Homo sapiens: one gene and its partners. The protein of the gene in region 3 interacts with the protein of the main gene of each other region in a pairwise test. Each region holds a gene or a part of one and is shown on either strand. Other genes may lie near its edges.

Region 1 (3,657 bases), on a different chromosome or scaffold from region 3:
TGCAAAGAACTAATAAGAACTTTGCAACGATCATCAGCAGATACTTTGGATTGTTTAATTAAAGAAATTGCAGTTACCAGTGTCTCAATAGCACTCCCATAATCACCTGTGAGGGAAAGGAAAGGGTTTGAAGTCAAACAAATTTTGTTTTCAAAACACCATCAAACCACTTGGGATAAGAGTGATAAGGCATTTTACAAAAGTACTGTGCTATAAAATAACTATGCAAGACAATGTCTTCTTTCAGTGTTTCACCATTTGCAAAAGCCTTTCATGCTCATGATATTGACTCAACTTATTATACGTGTGTGAAGCACATTATCATTTTGCAAATATAAGAATAAATAAGGTGTCATGAGGCCCCTGAACCATTAAATGTCAAGGGTAAGACTTAAATCTATACCAAATAACTTAAAATTTGGATTTTCCCCACTACACTGTGACACACAACTTTTTTCAATGCTTTTTAAATAAATCGTAGGTAATGATTTGGGAATATAAAAAGAACTACTACATGTAAATGACCTATCTTCTAGATTGTACTTACATTTTTAGGTCATTCCTAATAACATAAATAAGAAATATTAATACAAGAAATACACAAACCAGCACTGGCATCAGACACAGCTCTCGAAATAGCACTGCTTGAGATTGCCCTATTTCTATTCATGATTTCTTCAAATTCAGCTTCACTCAATGGCGTTCTTGCAGTATCCATTTCCCTGTAAAACAAAAACATAAACCTTAACTCATACTCAACAGATTTCCTCAGTTAGTCACAACAGTGTATAGCAATTCATACTAGCTGCTTCTGACATGTGCTTTAGAGATAGTAGTTACTTTTCCATATTGAAGCATGCTACTTTTCCAACAAAGAGAACAAATCTAAAAATTCTCCTATACCAGTATCTTTCAGCTAAAACAGGGTAGCAGCTTAAACACCTCATCTTCTTGGAAGGCAGAAATAACATATTTATATACCTACAATCTAATATTTACAGTCATTGTTCCTATCTTTTATCATCAAGTACTTTCACAGATACACACTAACTTACCTTCCAGGGGGGCCATAGTCACCCCTATCATATGGTGGAGGTCGCCCATATGGATCTGTTGGTGGTGGACCTCGGCTATCTGATGTAGGCATGCCACTGTTAGTTGGTGGAGGAAAGAAAGCTGGGTTCACATGCGGAGCTGGCGGTGGGGCACCTGGAGGTGGTCCAGGAAGATGCGGAGGAGGAGCTAGTGTAAGGGGTGGCCCAAGTGGACCGGGTGGACGAGGTGGAAAGGGGCCTGGAGGTGGAGGTGGTCCCTGTTGTGGAGGTGGTGGGCCAGGAGGGGGGCCGTAGCCTGGAACTGGAGGTGGAGGGCCAGGAGGAAGTGGACCCAATGGAGGCTGCCCAAAAGGTTGTCCAGGAAAAAGAACTGGTGGTGGAGGGCGATCTCCTCGATTAGGAGGCCCAGCTAGAGGAGGAGGCAGAACCTGACCAGGAGGTGGAGGACCTGGTGGACCAGGTGGGCCTGGAGGACCTAAGGGTGGACGTGGTGGAGTCTGTCCAGCTAAAAAACAAAGGAGAAAGAGAGAAAAAAAAACACTTCACTAATAAGATATTTTAACTTTTATATGCCAAGATTATACTTTAAACGCATAGAGCATACACCAAGTCTTTGTCTTTAAATTAAACCCGTATGGTAAATGTTACACTACCAACTACAATGAAGTATATCCTTACAAATTTAACTAGCTCAATTTATGCTTAAGAAAAATTATTGAAACGAAAACTTTAATAAAAAAATATTACAATGCCTAGAGATATTTTCCATCTTTCCGTGTACACACACTTCTTACAGTGAAATCACCCACCTTATATTCTACTCTGATGCCAAGCTAGAAAGTGAAACAAGGAAAAATGATCTTGAAAGGATTTTTTTAAGAGGTAAGAAAGTAAGACGGATGTAAATATTCTATATATAAGTCAAGCAAGTTTGGAGAAAAATAAAGACCTTTTAGGCCAAAAATGGGTATTTCCTCTATGCTGTGCCCCATATGCCATGGAATCCTAGTTTCCAGGAACAAAGGCCGAGTTCCTTTAACAAGATGCTTGATCAAATTTCCTGGATTCCAAAAATAGCATAACAAGGAGAGTAAGTCACATTAATAATGCATTACTTGAAAAAGAGAGAAAAGGAAAAGAGGTATTAGGTAGACATGTTTTATCCATGGTAATTTAAGAAAAGTTTTACCTGGAAAAGGTGGGGGTGGCCCTCCTGGTCCTGCTGGCCCAGGAAATCTGTCCCCACCAGGAACAGCCCCTGGAAAACGGCCCCGTCCTCTACCACCTTGTGGAAATGCTGCACGGGAACTGCCTCCTGGAGGACCAGCTTTACCTTCCCCAGACATTTGTCCTGATTGTGTAGCTGCAAATATCCAAATACTCATAAATAGCACTTATTAAAAATAGTTTTCTGAAATGTAACCACTATTATTAAAAACAACTCTATTTCTAATATATTAACTTGCAAATGCCTTGTGCCTATGCAAACTACATAAGAAAGTATGGTTTAGGAAAACATTCACATCTATTTGGGTACTTTTAAAGACTCAAAATATCCAGGTTTAAATATATTTTCCATAGGTAATCGTGAGTTACTTTCAAAATACCAGCACTCTGCAGCAGCCAAGACCGAAATTCTTCAACAGATATCTTAATTTCAGTATTACATCATTTAAATTTTGTAACACACTTCTTCAGTTAAGTCTTAAGTGCTAAAACATTAAAAGAAAAGGAACCACTTGAATTTCTGTTAATTACATAATCATCCATCTCATCTCTTTAAAGATAATGTACTTAAATGTATAATGACAAATCTTTTCTATATTCAGTTTACCAAGTGGTGAAAGGTCTTGTTGCCAAGCAGAAAAATCAATGAACATTTTCTGGTTATCAGTGATCTCTCCCCCACCATAATACACATCCACATAGCTCTCCTTTAATCTAAGAATTAGAATGTAGTTTCTTTCTGTATCTAAGATGGAAATAATAGGACAAGAATGGCAGGGCTATAGAACTTGCACATTGTTGTATAGTATTGGGTCTGTTACATCTGGAGAAAAATGGAACAGGAGTAGGTTTCTCGTACACAGGCCCACAGTCATAACCAGTGATTAAATCTAATTCAAAGCATGGACTTTGTGAAATGGAGTTCCTAGTGAGCTAGTATTAAGATGACTTCTCTAGTATAACACCTAACAAATGCACTGGTTAAAATGTACATATTTTAATAAAAGCCTCTGAGGACTGCTTACTTTTCCTGGACTGCATTTCAAATTGACTCAGGAACTGTTTATTGCATGGAGTTACAACAGGATTCTGACCATGAAGTTCTCTTTTAGGTAACAGATCCATTAACTTTTTTGAAGATGCTTCAGATCCAACACCAACAAGGGCAAACCTAAAAAGTGTTTAAGGGGTGAGGATACAAAGTAAAAAGAGATCAATATTATTACTGTTATTCTTCTGTAAAAAGGTCTTAATCTGCTTTTATCTAAAACAACAGCTGGGCACAGTGGCTCATGCCTGTAATCCCAGCTGCTTAGAAGGTTGAGGCACGAGGATTGCTTGAGCCCAGGAGTTTGAGGCTACAGTAACCTATAAT
Region 2 (3,657 bases), on a different chromosome or scaffold from region 3:
TCACATCTGGAGCGGGTGAGGAATGCTACCGGAAACTAGCGAGTAGAAGCCAGCGATGCTCCTAAATACCCTAAAATGCACAAGACAGCCTCCACAACAAATAATTGCCTGGCCTGAAATGGGACCAGTCTGGTCACTTTGTGTCTGGTAAGATAAAGTTATTTAAAATAAAAAGTACTTATCCTTAAAAAGACATTTGGTGGAAAAATTTGAGAATTATCTCAGAGTAGGAGATTAACTCAGTAGCATGAGGCTTACCGCCAAATTGCTTCTTCCAGTTGCAGGGGATCTTACATCTCTGGGTCTTCATGGTTTGCTTGCACTCAGCTCCAGTCCGAGTGCCCTCCCGTGTGCCCAGCCCACAGTCTCCACTGGTGGGCACACACACACTCCACTGCCATTCTCCACAGTCAGACTTCTTCACTTTTTTTTCTGAATGAAAGGAGGAAAACCTAATCAACATACAGAAAACTCCTTAACTTCCAGATATAACCAAGTTCATTCCTGAGCACCTTAATTGCAGGATCTGTGTTTTTTAATCTGTATCCTTATTGTCTAATGAATAGTAGAAACATGATGAATATTAACCAAATTATTGAACCAATGAATGATCAAGAGAAGAGAGAAAGAAAACTGAGAAAAGAGCTAAAACTAATATTAATTGAACTCCCTCTTACTATGTGCCAGAGACTGTGCTAAGTGATTTAGTGGCATCTCCTTTTAGAAGCAAACATTTCTATAAAAGAAGAGATGGTCAAAAATATAGTTCTCCTAAAAATGAAGAAAATATTCTATTAGAAATAACAGTTGTCAGCTGGGCAAAGTGGCTCATGCCTGTAATCCCAGCACTTTGGGAGGTCGAAGCAGGCAGATCACAAGGTCAAAAGATCGAGACCATCCTGGCTAACATGGTGAAACCCCAACTCTACTAAAAATACAAAAATTAGCTGGGCGTGGTGGTGCATGCCTGCAGCCCCAGCTACTCGGGAAGCTGAGGCAGGAGAATCACTTGAACCGGGAGACAGAGGATACAGTGAGTTGAGATCGCACCACTGCACTCCAACCTGGTGACAGAGCGAGACTCCAACTCAAAAAAAAAAAAAAAGAAATAACAGTTGTCAAATGAGCCATTTCAGTGTAAGTTGTTGTTCCTTTCTCTGCCTTGTAGAAGGAATGACATCATACAAATATGGTGCATCACAGATTTAAACAGACTGTCAGTTCCACAGCCTACTTATGACTTTGGGAGTGGCATAGAGAAGGTGCTTTATCTTCTCTGTGCTTGTTTCCTCCTCTGTAAATCTGAAATTAAGGAGAAAAACAAGTTGCAGTGCATTTTTTTTTTTTTGAGGTAGAGAGGTAAATAATAAAGCACCTGATTACCGGTCAATGTTCTATACATAGTAGCTGCTAATTTGATCATTATATTAATGATCATCATCGTCATGCAATCCAAGACTTACAATGGGAGAAAAATAAGACAGGATATTTCTTAGGTTCCTCTAAGTAATTATTTTTGAAAAGGGAAGATTGAAGGAATAGAGGAATAGGAAGGGAGAGAGGCAGAGTAGAAGAGAGGAAGGAAAAGCAGGTAATTAGACTAGATGGACATTAATCAATGAAGCATCTTGCCTTCAGAACCCTACTGCTTACCTGGTTTCTCTTTCTTCCCTGCTTCAGCAGTATCCACAGCTGCCAGTATGAAAATGAATGCCAAGAAGGCAGCTGCAAATTTTCGACGCTGCTGCTGGTACTGTTGAGCCTGCATTCTAGGAATAAACAGAGAAAGAGAAGAAGGTGGCATTAACCTAAGTCAGAAAGGAAGATTCATTGAACCCTTGATGAAAAGGCTCCACTTTCCATTTCTGGAATGTTAGATTTCAGGAAGATTCATATCAATTATCTTGGGTAGAATTTTATCTATTCTTACCAACAGCCATTGAAATAAGTGCTCTTCTGCAATCAATCACGTATTCACTGACAAAACGCAACAGTTCTTCACTTAAGACTTCACAACCATTTGCTAAGTATGACTCAGAAATTATGGAAGCAAAAGAACTTTGAAGGCATGCATTTGAACACAGTCCTACTGTCTTGCTGATAGCATCACTTGGTAATATCGACAACTACAGCCATCTTCAAAATTCCTGACAATATTAGAAACAACCACAGCAATGATACTGCTGTACACAAGACCAATTTGAGTAGACATGATGAATGAATTACCTATACAAGTATATGTTTACTGTTTCTATTTAGACGCATACACAACAACCAACATCTCTGATCTTTTTAAAATCATTGTCATAATCATCACTATCATCTTATTATTCCATTATTTATTGATCTAACAAAGAGTGAATCCCAGAAGTAGAGCTAGCACACCTGTGATACATATCAAACACAATGATAAATTCGCATGTGCTAAAAATCCTCTAATCTTAGGATATGGTGAAGTCTTTACACTCACTCATAATAGGAAATGCTCACATTTGATGTGAATCAAAAATCCCAAGATATCATTAGAAAGACTCTCCTAGAACTTGAAGCCACCTGTGACAGCCTAGTGTCAATATGGTCACTTGGCCAAAACACCCTTGAGAAAGTTTCAGTCCAAGCTCCAGGACGACCCACTTCCCAATGGCTACACCATATCATGGCTGCAGCAACTTGCCTGGCAGTTATTGAGCTCCATCTGCTGTGTTAGTGGTGTGTTATACTTCACATAAAAATGGTTGTAATGTCCTATGATCATAGGCTGATAATTTTTTTTCCAGAGGTAGTACTAGATTAGTTTAGGTGTTTCAACATTCTCTTTAGTGTGAACAATAAAACGTTTCATGTATATAAGGGGTTGAGATTATTCTTTTCTCTAATTTATTTTCCTCATTGAAAAATATCTGAGATGATATCCTTGCCCGTGAATTTTTCTCCTTTTCTGTGGCATTGTATATGCTGTCTCTTATTAGTGTTTTTTTAAATTTATTTATTTTTAATTTTACTTTAAGTTCCAAGATACATGTGCAGAATGTGCAGGTTTGTTACACAGGTATACATGTGCCATGATGGTTTGCTGCACTTATTGACTGGTCCTCTAAGTTCCCTCCCCTTACCCCACACCCCTCAACAGGTCCTGGTGTGTGATGTTCCCCTCCCTGTGTCCATGTCTTCTCAATGTTCAACTCCCAGTTATGAGTGAGAACATGCGGTGTTTGGTTTCCTGTTCCTGTGTTAGTTTGCTGTGGATGATGGCCTCCAGCTTCACTCATGTCCCTGCAAAGGACATGATCTCATTCCTTGTTATGGTTGCCTAGTATTCCATTGTATATATGTACCAAATTTTCTTTATCCAGTCTATCATTGATAAGCTTTTGGGTTGGTTCAATGGCTTTGCTATGTAATAGTGCTGCAATAAACCTATGTGTGCCTGTGTCTTTATATTAAAATAATTCATATTCCTTTGGGTATATACTCAGTAATGGGATGGCTGGATCAAATGGTATTTCTGGTTCTAGATCCTCAAGGAATCACCACACCGTTTTCCACAATGGTTGAACTAATTTCCAGAATTTACAAGGAACTTAAACAAATTTATAAAAAACAAAACAAAACAAAACAAAACAAAAACCCCATCAAAAACTGGGCAAAGGATATGAC
Region 3 (3,657 bases):
GAGAATCACTTGAACCCAGGAGGTGGAGGTTGCAGTGAGCCAAGATCGCACCACTGCACTCCAGCCTAGGTAACAGAGTGAGACGCCATCTCAAAAAAAAAAAAAAGAAAAATGTAATTGTGTTTTAAAATCTCTCGTGAATTAGTTATGTCTTAATGTCATTAGTCACATTTTCATATAAACAGACTGTACAATATGGTTTACTGAGAAAAGGATAATGACTCAAAATGCTGAGAATTATGTTGTAGCATCAGTTCAGACACTGATGAACCATGTACTCCTGGGCAAGACATTTCCCTTCTCTGTGCCTCACTTTTCCCTTGTCTGAAATAAAGAGTTGTGTTAGTTGAGTGATTTTCAGTTTTCAGATTGGTCTCTGTAAGATGGTCTGAGGAGGACTAAGCAGAGGCAGGAGAGGGGAAGCTCGGGCAGCAGAACAGTGATTTTCTCTCCCTAATTCTTCCCACGCTTCACAACAGAGAAGCTTGACATTTATGTGCTTTATGTTTCTTGGGGTTTCACTCAAGATTTGCTTGGAAAAAAAAAGATTCTACTATTAAAAAGACAACTGATTTGAAACTGCTGACCTAAATGATCTCTTACAGTTCCAGTTCTGCAGGATTGTAGTTCTTAGCTAATACTGGCCACTAAGCAGTTTTTACCAATCAGATGTTAGAGGGTCAAGTTGTTAAAAGACTTTGTTTGAAATGTGTGGTGAGAAGGTATAAAAGATCTGGCACTATTCTGCCACAACCCTAGAATCCCATGAGCCTACCCTGATCATATAGTAGGGTTTTACAAAAATGCATACCTAGTCATGTAGTAGAGCCAGATTTAGATCTTGTGTGATCATAGTCTAACATTTTATTTGGTTGATGACTTGAATTACATTAAAAATTATTTTTTTAATCATCACAATATCTTTAGTCAGAAATATATTATTTTATTCCTTCAAATGGATAGACATACATACCACAAGTATTAATCATGCCAGAGTACTACAAAACAGTTGTAAAAAACTTTTAACTCTCTTGCACTATTTTTATATATATATATCATCTTGACTATATATAATGGGAAGAGACCTTAAGATTGATTGTTTTTCCCTCAAGAACTGGTGCAACACATGAAGCACAGTAACACAGGTGAATGTGCAGAGTCTGGAAAGGTCCAGAGCCTATACGTATCCCATGTTGAGGATAAGAATGTGAGCTCCAGCAGAGATACACATGTTCCTTTCAGTGTATGTATTTCAAATATGAAACAGTCTTCAGTAAAACTTTTCATCATCAGTAAGTTTTAACCCAGGATGTCATTTCCCCTCACTCCACTGTATTAGTTTGGTAGGGCTGCTGTAACAAAATACGATAGGCTAGGTGGCTTAAACAACAGAAATTAATTTTTTCACAGCTCCTAAGATCTAAGACCAAGGTTAGTTAGGCTTAGTTTCTTGTGAGGCCTCTTTTGGTGGCTTGCAGGTGGCCATCTTTCATTGTGTCCTTATATGGTGTTTTCTCTGAGTGTATTTTATCTCTGGTGCCTTTTGTGTTCAGATTTCCACCTCTAATAAGGACACCAGTTAGATTGGATTAGGGTCCACCTGTATGACTTTGTTTAACCTTAATCACCTCTTTAAAGGCCCTGTCTCCAAATATTGTCACATTCTGAGGTACTGGGGCTTGGGACTTTAACATATGAATTTTGGGGGACACAGTTCAGCCCATAACCCCCCATGTCACCCTTCTTCTTAGGTCCCATTGAGAATCTCTGCTATTTGTTTGATTTCTTCACAGAAGAAGAGGAAAAAAGGAGAAGAATATTAGTATAGAACAGAACTGTTGCCAAAACGTTCCTCCTGGGCACTGTTTTAATTAGAGGAAATTAGATGGCCATATTTAGGGTAGAAATAGAAGTTCAGAGAAGGTAATGCCGAGCATCACATGCAAACATTTATTCCTCTTCATCATTCTTTGAGAGTGTCTCTGATATTAATATTGTTAATTAATATTGTCTAATGCTGAATTCAGAAAAAAATTCAATGTGTTATGTTTCTGCTTTCCCATACTAACATATGGGCTCTTGCACTCTGAGAATGATGTGTTTCCCACTAATAACTCGAGTTAACAGACACAACTCTGAAACACATTCCACTTGGTTTTAGGCATTTGTTTCAGGATGAATATGAATGATAACTGAGATTTTAAAATTTAACTAAAAATATTATTCTCCTTGTAGAAACATTTTCTATTAGCATTTTATGTTACTATATATTTATATGATCTTCCTATAGAATGGCAAACATCAGCAGATCTCAGGCAGACTTCAGGATGTCCGACTCAAAAAGCAAACTCAAAAGACTGAGCTGGAAGTTCTGGATAAGCAGTGTGACTTGGAAATTATGGAAATCAAGCAACTTCAACAGGAACTTCAGGTAAGTCCTTCACTGCTAAATTGTTCTTAAACATGTACAATTAATAGTTCTTCTGGGCTGGGCACGGTGGCTCACGGCTGTAATGCTAGCACTTTGGGAGGCTGAGGCGGGTGGATCCCCTGAGGTCAGGAGTTCGAGACCAGCCCAGTCAGCAGGGCAAAACCCCGTCTCTACTAAAAATACAAAAAAATTAGCTGGGTATGGTGGCGCATGCCTGTAATCCCAGCAACTCGGGAGGCTGAGGCAGGAGAATCGCTTGATTCCGGGAGGCAGAGGTTGCAGTGAACCCAGATCGCACCACTGTACTCCAGCATGGATGATAGAGCGAGATTCCATCTCAAAACAAAACAAAACGAAACAGTTCTTCTAATAGAGTTTTGTTTTGGGGGTCAATAACCTTGAGTCTTTGATAGGCTTGTGATCTAAATACACGCAATCCTGTATACAATATCAGGAAGTCCATAGACCTACTAAAACTCTGCTAGACGTCTGGTTAAGTTTTGCTTAATATATATACGTAAGTGGACATTTATCACTTTGAGTTTTAACTCTTTAACAATGTTTATGCATTCTTAATTCATTACTTGCTATAACAAACGACCTTAGACTGGGTAATTTATAAACAACAGAAATTTATTACTCATAGTTCTAGAGACTGAGAAGTCCAAGATCAAGGTGTTAGCAGATTCAGTGTCCGATGAGGGCTTGCTGTCTCCTTTAAAACTAGTGCCTTCTTGCTGCGTCTTCACATGCAGAAAGGGTAAGGCAGTCCCTTCAACTTCCTTTATAAGGACAGTCATCTCATTCATGAGTGTGGAGCCTCCTAAAGCCCTACTTCTTAATAGTACTGCATTGGGAGTTAGGTTCCAACATATGAATGTTGGGGACATACCAACATTCAGACCATATCATACATTAAAATAAGGTTATTGCTACTAATTTTAGGAAATTTTGACTTAAAGTTATTCTTTTTAAAATTATGATGAGAACTTGAATATGTCCCTTGGGGTCCTGGTAATTCTCTTCCTTACTTGTGCAGTAGGGTCTGGTTCAATAATTACTATTTGCAGAATGGGGCTGTGGAAGCATTCTGCATCTCTAGAGTTCTCTTACCCAATTTCTCTTACTGCATGGACTGGCAATTAATCAGTCTTTTTGCTTTGTTACAGGAGAGATAAACAAAAGCCAAAAATATTTTCTGTCTGATTTAAACCTGCTTTCCTAGT

What was found.
Region 1: the proteins of ITSN2 (region 3) and CPSF6 interact in a two-hybrid assay, tested with the Homo sapiens proteins (one large-scale study listed by BioGRID).
Region 2: the proteins of ITSN2 (region 3) and PTN interact in a two-hybrid assay, tested with the Homo sapiens proteins (one large-scale study listed by BioGRID and IntAct).

Annotation. Positions count from the first base shown.
Region 1 is NC_000012.12:69,256,493-69,260,149, reverse strand, and holds part of CPSF6 (cleavage and polyadenylation specificity factor subunit 6), read right to left. Parts: intron 3,454-3,657; coding exon 3,308-3,453; intron 2,419-3,307; coding exon 2,245-2,418; intron 2,116-2,244; coding exon of another isoform or gene 2,005-2,115; intron 1,561-2,004; coding exon 1,056-1,560; intron 723-1,055; coding exon 607-722; intron 107-606; coding exon 1-106. UniProt on the Homo sapiens protein: Component of the cleavage factor Im (CFIm) complex that functions as an activator of the pre-mRNA 3'-end cleavage and polyadenylation processing required for the maturation of pre-mRNA into functional mRNAs.
Region 2 is NC_000007.14:137,253,206-137,256,862, forward strand, and holds part of PTN (pleiotrophin isoform 1 precursor), read right to left. Parts: intron 1,770-3,657; 5' UTR 1,769-1,769; coding exon 1,654-1,768; intron 433-1,653; coding exon 259-432; intron 1-258.
Region 3 is NC_000002.12:24,294,438-24,298,094, reverse strand, and holds part of ITSN2 (intersectin-2), read left to right. Parts: intron 1-2,290; coding exon 2,291-2,431; intron 2,432-3,657.